Regions from separate parts of the Homo sapiens genome. Here region 1 is linked to region 2. The links come from fine-mapping of genetic effects on gene expression. Tissue or cell type: lung. Region 2 holds a variant in brackets; the other region holds the start of a gene. All regions are shown on one strand. Distances are from middle to middle. Region 1 holds the start of MYO1H (myosin IH). Region 2 overlaps MYO1H (myosin IH).

Region 1 (4,397 bases), 86 kb before region 2:
TTCAACCAACCTTGGATCAAAAGTATTCAGGGAAAAATTTTCATCTGTATGAAGATGTACAGACACTTTTTTGTCATTGTTGCCTAGACAATGTAGTATAACAACTATTTACATGGCATTTACATTCTACTAGGTATTATAAGTAATCTGACAATGATTTAAAGTGTACAGGAGGATGTGCATAGGTTATATGCAAATACTATGCCATTTTATATCAGGCAATTGAGCATCCATGGATTTTTGAAGGTCCTGGAACCAATCCCCCACAGATACTGAGGTACAACTGTACTTAAAAAACAATGAACTGTATAAATAAGTGAATGTTATACGTGATTTATATTTCAATTAAAAATATATTTCAGATATGCAAAAATGTATGAAGAATCATATAGGCCAGGCGCGATGGCCCACACCTGTAATTCCAGCACTTTGGGAGGCTGAGGCAGGTGGATCACTTGAAGTCAGGAGTTCGAGACCAGCCTGGTCAACATGGTGAAACCTTATCTCTACTAAAAATACAAAAGTTAGCTGGGCGTTGTGGCGGGTGCCTTGTAATCCCAGCTACTCAGGAGGCTGAGGCAGGAGAATCACTTGAACCTGGGGGGCGGAGGTTGCAGTGAACTGAGATCCTGCCATTGTGCTCCAGCCTGGGCAACAGAGCAAGGCTCCATCTCAAGAAAAAAATAAATTATATTTAAAAACTAAAATATATGTCTATAAAATTATATATTTTTAAAAAACATTTTTAGTATACTATTTCTGGTTGTCCCTTTGTAACCAAATCAAGGATATGTTATATTACCTATTCAGTTACAAAAATGGAATCATTTCTTTAAAAAAGTCAATTGATCAAAAATTAGAGTGTCCAAAGAATTATTAGCATATTTCTGCTCTTGTCAGGGCTTGTGTTAGGGGTTCTCCAATAGGATATATATACAGAGAGAGAGATACATGAAATGGGATTAATAAATGAAATCCTGAGGTCAGTCGCTGGACCCACAGTCCTCCATCCAACAGGGGGTGCTGTTTAGGTTCGAATGAACCCAGCACTGAATCCACTGTCCATACCCTTAGCCATGATCCTGTTGCAGCAGCAGGCTCAAGTTTGGGGGCCCAAGGCATACAATGTGGTGGGTGATGGGTGGGGTTGTCTGAAAGAACAAGAATAGAACTTTATACGATGAGGCCCAGACCAGGAAGGGGTGAACTCTGAGCTTCATGGTAAACCCATCTGTAACTGAACAGCCTCCAATATCAGCAACCTTGTGATTTTTTATGAGATGATAGTGCCCCTGCATCACTTCAGCATCTGAAAATAATAATAAAATGAAAGTAAAGTCCTGAGTCTCCGTATTATGAAACCTTGAAGTTACCCAATCAACTTGATTCCATGAAATTTAAGGCTGTAAAGTTTTTCAAACAGAGCCAACAGGTACTTCCAGCAGGAGTTCCCTGGAGCTGGATCCTAGGCTAAGAGATTGGGAGAATTTTCTTTTCTTTTTTTTTTCTTTTTTTCTTTTTTTTTAAGCATAGCTCACCGAGGGTCCTGCCATTATTTCAATAGTCAGTGACTGGTCAGGAACATAAGCAACTAATCAAAGATCAGCAGTGTCTGTAACGTAAACTCAAGGGAGGTTGGGTTTCCAGTTCTTATCTCCCTGGAGCAGCCCGGTGTGCCTACATGTAGACGGCCATAAGATGCAGTTTCTGCCTCCCACCGTAAATTATTAACTTAGCTCCACCCCGCAAGCTAGAATCGCCTCATACCTTGTTGCTGGATGTCAGGCATCACAGAATCATAAGTCAGTGGGAAGCAACTTTTGAATGGCTCAAGAGGAATAGTTGTTAACAACCTGCTCTCCCTCTGTGCGTGATGGAATCCAAGGTAATGTGACTTGAACACTAGAAGGTGGTTACACCTGGTGACCTCTTTTCTACCAAGAACTTTCCAAATGGCTATAATGCTGGGCCTCTGCTAGGCCTGGAGAGAGAACTGGGCGTGTGAATAAGATTCTGAATTTATTTGATGAAAAATTCTATGTTAAGATGATCATGTAGATATCTCCCTTCTGTTGCTGGGGGCAAGTACGATGATTTAGAACCAAAGCATGGGAGAGTTACCGATTCATTTCACATTGGTCTAGAACAGCGTGCTGTGCAATAAAGACAGAAATGGTCTCTGTTAGCACTGCCTAATGCAAGAGCTCTTGGCTATGTGTGACTACTGAGTGGTTAAACTGTGGCTGGTTCCTGGGGAACTGAATTGTAAATTTGACTGAATTTTCATTAATTTAAATAGCCACATGTGGCTAGTGGCTACTGTGTTAGCATGGTTGGGTCTTAAATAATAGATGGTGACCTCATGTTGAAGGAAATTGTAGGTAATAATTGGCCTTACATGTAAGACTATTGGTACATTTTCTTCATTACCCTAGATACCTTGTGTTTCCTTTTAAATGCGATAAGCCCAACTTGTCCCAGGTAATGATCATTTTAAGAAGCTAAGACAGCTGTTTTTATTATCAGGTAGACAATGGTAAAGCTCTCCTGGGAAGATGGAAGACAGAACTTGAGTGTCAAACCTATTGCCTCTTTCCAGGAGTTAATTCTAAGCATAAAGACTTCCAAGGACAGGTTTTCTGGGTTTCGATAGCATAATCATCTCATGTGTTCTCTGTTTAGAAAACATTATCTGCTGAAGGATTGTTTCTTTTCTTGCCTAGACAGCCAAAAAGCTTACAGAAACATTTATGGATGTAGTTAGAATAATTTCGTAGCTGTTCACAGAAGCCTCAGGCACCATGAAGAAACCCTAGCTACAGCTTGTCATTGATCCATTCAGTCAATTACCCATTTCTATAGCACTGAATACTGTCACCTTGGCAACTGGTAACTCAAAATGGCACTGTCCTTGACCGAAAATGTATCTGAATGCCCATAACAAAGTCCTGGTTTTAGATGCCATTCTTGCATGATATCTCAAAGTGGTAACTCTAGGAAGCATGATTCATTGGGAGAAAATAATTTAGTTGATGGACAGAGAGGAGTATTTGCTGTAGGTCTTGCAGTGAAAGACAACAGATAGGTCTGTCCTCAAGGTCGCATGTGCCTTTTTTTAAATTGTCATGGCTTTACAAAATGCACGTAGAAGTAACCATGCAGATTGACTTATACATAGTTACACTTTTTTGAAAAATGGAGGAAGCTCTTCCTTCTTATGAATTAATTCCCAGATTCCTTTGGTAAAACATTATTTGGATAGAGTTTACTCCAGATTAAAAAAGAACAAACTGGGCTGGGCATGGTGGCTTGTGCCTATAATCCTAGCACTTTGGAAGGCCAAGGTGGGAGGATCCCTTGAGACTAGGAGCTTGAGACCAGCATGAGCAACATAGTGTGACCCCCCCACCAAAAAAATTAAAAAGTAGCTAGATATGGTGGCACATGCCTGTGGTCCCAGCTACTCCAGAGGCTAAAGTGGGAGGATCACTTGAGCTAGGGTGATCAAGGCTGCAGTGAACTGTGATCATGCCATGCACTCAGCCTGGATGACAGTCTGAAACCCTGTCTCAAAAAAAAAAAAAAAAAAGAGGCCGGGTGCGGTGGCTCATGCCTGTAATCCCAGCACTTTGGGAGGCCGAGGCAGGCAGATCACGAGGTCAGGAGATCGAGACCATCCTGGCTAACACGGTGAAACCCCGTCTCTACTAAAAATACAAAAAAATTAGCCGGGCGTGGTAGGGGGTGCCTATAGTCCCAGCTACTCGGGAGGCTGAGGCAGGAGAATGGCGTGAACCCGGGAGGCAGAGCTTGCAGTGAGCGGAGATCACGCCACTGCACTCCAGCCTGGGCGACAGAGCAAGACTCTGTCTTGAAAAAAAAAAAAAGTTAATATTATTATTATATTATTTTATATTATATTAAATATTAGAGATGGAACCATTCAGAAATGACCTCAGAAGGAGCTGAGTTTGATGAACAAAGCAAAATGAAGAACTGAAGCACCATGAATAACAATGCTGATTTTAGCGAGCATTTGCTTCGTGCCGTTGATTGTCATTGTCCACATGGTAGCATATTTAGTTCGCAGGTGATTCATTCAAAAGCTCACTTTATGCAAATCATCTGGGCAGTTGCCTCTTCTCTCCAAGTTAGTTGGGTTGTAGGGAATCCATAAACTCCTGATATGGTTTGGCTGTGTCCCCACCCAAATCTCATCTTGAATTGTAGCTCCCATAATTCCCTCGTGTTGTGGGAGGGACCCGGTGGGAGATTATCGAATCATGGGGGCAGTTTCCCCCATACTGTTCTCATGGTAGTGAATAAGTCTCATGAGATCTGATGGTCTTATAAGGGGAAACCCCCTTCGCTTGGCTCTCATTCTCTTCTCTGCCGCC
Region 2 (4,397 bases):
TCATTATACTACAGACATCACGGTTCTCTTTCTAGGGACTGCAGGGTAGAAGGGAACTGCATGCTGGAATCAGGTTCTTAACACTGGAGCCAAAATTACCCCTGGGGGACGGGGGAAGCCCTCATCACTTCCCAAGCATGGAACCCTTTCTTTCTCTTCTCTACTCTTTCTTGAGACAGGATCTCTGTTACCCAGGCTGGAGTGCTCCCTGAAGCCTCAACCTCCTGGACTCAAGCGATCCTCCTGCCTCAGCCTCCTGAGTAGCTGGGACTACAGCCGCACACTGCCACACCTGGCTAAAAAAAAAATTTTTTTTTTTTTTTTTTTTTTTTTTTGAGATGGAGTCTTGCTCTGTCGCCCAGGCTGGAGTACAGTGGCGCAATCTCGGCTCACTGCAAGCTTCGCCTCCCAGGTTCACACTATTCTCCTTCCTCAGCCTCCCCAGTAGCTGGGACTACAGGTGCCCGCCACCATGCCTGGCTAATTTTGTTTTGTATTTTTAGTAGAGACAGGGTTTCACCATGTTAGCCAGGATGGTCTCGATCTCTTGACCTTGTGATCCGCCCGCCTCGGCCTCCCAAAGTGCTGGGATTACAGGCTTGAGCCCCTGCGCCTGGCCTTTTTTTAAGTAGAGACGGGGTCTGCCCAGGCTGGTCTCAAATGCCTGGCCTCAAGTGATCCTCCTGCCTTGGCCTCCCAAATTGCTGGGATCACAGGCATGAGGCACCATACCCGGTCTCAAGCATAGAACTTTTTCTTCTGGTACTAGACTATGTTTGTTTGTCTGTTCAGTTTTCTGTCGATGGACATCTGGGTTGTTTCCACCTTTTGGCTATTATGAATCATAGCACCATGCACTGCTACACCCAATGGCTGCTATGAACATTCAGGTATGAATGTTCGGACACCTTTTCATTTCTCTTGGACAGATACCTAGGAGTGGAATTGAGTCACTGGGTTGAGCGTCTGATGATGTCATTGTTCTACAAAGACAGGTCAAACTCCCTACTATATTGAAACAGTTTCTCTCTCCTTTCTTTCTTGCAAAGTACCCATCTTTGAATTCGAGAAAGTTCGTGTAATGGGACTACTACATACACTGAGTGGCCGACATGCCACAGCAGTGCTCAGCAGGCCTCTGGGGCCGGGGATGTGGGGGAGGGCTAGAGGAAGGTACGGTCACAGCTTCTCCATGTCCATCTCCTCTCCTAGGTACAAGTCCTTATGCCCAGACACCTGGCCGCACTGGCACGGGCCTCCAGCAGAGGGCGTGGAACGGCTGATCAAGTACATCGGCTACAAACCCGAGGAATACAAGTTAGGCAAGTAAGTGACCAGAAGACCACCAAATGGTCTCTTCCCTTGACATCAAAGGGTTTTGTGCATTGATCCGTATCCATCTAGAGCCTGGAGACTCGATTCCTAGGGATTTATGGAGATTTGCGAGATTTATGCTTCATCTACTCGATGTAAATGCAGCTCTTAATTCTTTAGAAGAGCTATGGTGCTGCCGGTGGGAGGAAATGAAGTTATAAAGGAAACTTCCGCACTAAACTGATTTAGCAGATGGGCCTCCTTGCTAGCAAAACAAAGAGGGAACCAGAGGGGGCACCTAACGTCCGTGTGCCTGGATTCTTTCACTGTTCCCATGTACGCATGACCTGCCAGAGGAGCTACTGGGACCTAGACAATGTGAGATCATCTGTAGCATCTCAGAAATGGTGTGCTGGAACTCTTAACTGTAGAGTTGTAGTTATCCATGAGCAGAGACTTTCGTACACATTGAAAGCTTTCAGGCACAACTCAAGGGACATGAATCGGGAAGATCCGAGTCCGTCTTGTGCGTCATTTTGGTCAGGGTTAATGAGGTTGCAGGGAAAGGTGTCTCAGCATGAAGATCTATTCCCCGACAGCAGGGCTTCCCCACTCCAGAGAGCTCTGCCTGTGATCCTGTTCATGGGCTTTCCC[T/C]GCTGACTCCTAACTCCCACTTGTACATGGTCGTCTGGGCCGCCTTGGCCTCTCTCCATCTGTAGACTCCTATTCTGGGCCTGTTCCAAGGATCAGTTACTTAGTCAGTCCAGATCTCCAAGGGGATTCTGCAAGGCTCAGCACATCCTGAGGGAGGCAGGGCATGGAGGTCAGAGGTGGGATCCGTCTGTCCCCTGTTCCATAAATTGAAACAGGGACAAGGGAGAGTGGGATCACCAGGCACCACCCACTGCTGTCCCCAGTGGCTGCCCTGGGAACTTTCCCTCACCAGGCCTGGGGTCGGGCAGGCAATGTGAGGTCAGTATTTGTAACTTCTCTCTGCTGGCTACTGTGATCTTCTTTTTATTTTTTTATTTTTTGAGACAGAGTCTTGCTCTGTCACCCAGGCTGCAGTGGCATGATCTCGGCTCACTGTAACCTCCGCTTCCTGGGTTCAAGCGATTCTCCTGCCTTAGCCTCTCGAGTAGCTGGGATTACAGGTGCACACTACCACAATGGGCTAATTTTTGTATTTTTAGTAGAGACAGGGTTTCACCGCGTTTGTCAGGCTGGTCTCAAACTCCTGACCTCAGGTGATTCACCTGCCTCGGCCTCCCAAAGTGCTGGGATTGCAGGCGTGAGCCACCGCGCCCAGCGTGATCTTCTTTTAAGCTTAGATCCACATTATTTGTCTGGCTGGGCGTGGTGGCTGGTGCCTGTAATCCCAGCTACTCGGGAGTCTGAGGCACGAGAATCATTTGAACCTGGGAGATGGGGGTTGCAGTGAGCCGAGATTGCACCACTGCACTCCAGCCTGGGCAACAAACTGAGACTCTGTTTCAAAACAAAAACAAAAAACAAACAAAAACACCCATATTCTTTGTCGTCACTCTTTAAAGCCTAGCAACATAACTTGAAGCAACTTCAGGTTACGTTGGTTTATTCATTTCCTAGGACTGCGTAACAGATGATCACAAAGTGGCTGATTTAAAACAAATCTATTCTCTCCTAGTTGTGGAGGCCAGAAATCCAAAAATCAAGAGTTGGCAGGGCCACATTCCTGCGGGAGCCTCTTTTAGCTCTGGTGGCTCCTGGCATTGCTTAGCTGTAGCCGTGTCCCTCCAATCTCTGCCTCCGTCCTCACGTGGGCTCCTCCCTGTGTCTTTCTGTGTGTATAGAGACACTCTCAATGGATTTAGGGCCCACCCTATTCCAGGATGAGCTCATTTCTATCCTTACCTCAATCACATCTGCAAACACTATTTCCAAATAAGATGGTATTCTGAGGTTCTGAGTGGAAATGAATTTTTGAAGGGGGCACCGTTCAACCCACTAGATGGTAAACTGACCAATTAATAACAAAAACATTTCTTTTCACTTCTAGAACCAAAATATTCATTCGTTTCCCCAGAACTCTGTTTGCTACCGAAGATGCCTTTGAATTTAGTAAACATCAACTAGGTATGATTTCTTTTTCTGTCCCGATTTCAATAGAATATGAAATGAACAAGTGGAGCTTGGGGGTAAATCTTAAACACGGGTGTTTGATATAGTGTTAGAAGCATTCGCTTTGGAAACTAGGAACGAGATATGGGATTATGATAAGATCCCTGTGAATTTCTGCTTTAATGACTGCTTGGAGGTCAGTCACAGATGCAGGCAGATATATAAACATTGTTCCGCCGTTTCAGTTCTCGTTTGGATCAGATTCTGTTGTTCACTACTAGGGTGTAAAACCGTGAGAGACCAGCCCCTTGAAATTAAAGTTTACAAAACTTCACTTGTCTGCGTGTCTGATGTTGGAAAGTTTAGCTTCAAAGCCTGCAGCCTGGGTGTTTGCTGGGAATGGTCAATGAGAAAAGTTAGATGGGGAAATGCAAAAAGTAAAAAATCAAAACTGCGGGGGGAGGGAGCGTCTCTTTTGAAATGTAACCGGTCTGTCAAGAACTACGCTTGAGTCATTTGAGGGCCTGCTGTGCGCCAGGTGAACACTAAGTCCTTTAAACCATGGTCTCATTCTGTTCTGAGAACAGACCTGTAAGGGAGGTGACATAGGTGCTATCGTCTCCGCTTTCTATGCAGGGAAACTGAGGCACGGAGGTGTTGGTAACTTGTTGAAGGCTACACAGCAAGTAAGCAGCCTAGCTGCGGTTTGAACCTGGGTCTGTCTGGCTTCAAGGCTTGGTGGTCTCATTTTCTGACCTCCGTAGCAGTGGGCACCAATGGCTGGGGATCTGGTTGAAGGGCCACAGTTAGGCCAGTGGGGCCTGAGCCAGCATCTCTAACCAGCTCGTGGGGAATAGGATGTGGCTGCTCTGCAAGGCTCTTGATGAGCTTGGCCTCTGATAGGACCTAAATTGCTGTGTGGAGGGGGTGGATGCAGGATGTAGAAGCCGAGGGAGAGTGTTCTCTGATCAGACCTGGATTCA

Evidence for each region. PIP is the estimated chance that this variant, and not a neighbour inherited with it, causes the effect. A credible set is the group of variants that fine-mapping cannot tell apart.
Region 1: MYO1H starts here. The variant in region 2 is the best candidate, but not a certain one, in a credible set for the expression of MYO1H in lung (TOPMed, PIP 0.59).

Annotation. Positions count from the first base shown.
Region 1 is chr12:109,346,088-109,350,484 of GRCh38, forward strand. MYO1H (myosin IH) reads left to right here and starts at 1,813. Exons shown (of 32, transcript NM_001101421.4): 1 at 1,813-1,885. The coding sequence starts at 1,874.
Region 2 is chr12:109,431,685-109,436,081 of GRCh38, forward strand. MYO1H (myosin IH) reads left to right here. Exons shown (of 32, transcript NM_001101421.4): 20 at 1,213-1,326; 21 at 3,353-3,429. Among named protein-coding and RNA genes, the nearest start is that of KCTD10, 43 kb to the right of the region's middle. RefSeq lists an enhancer at 2,081-2,585. The variant T/C (reference allele first, on the strand shown) is at 1,969.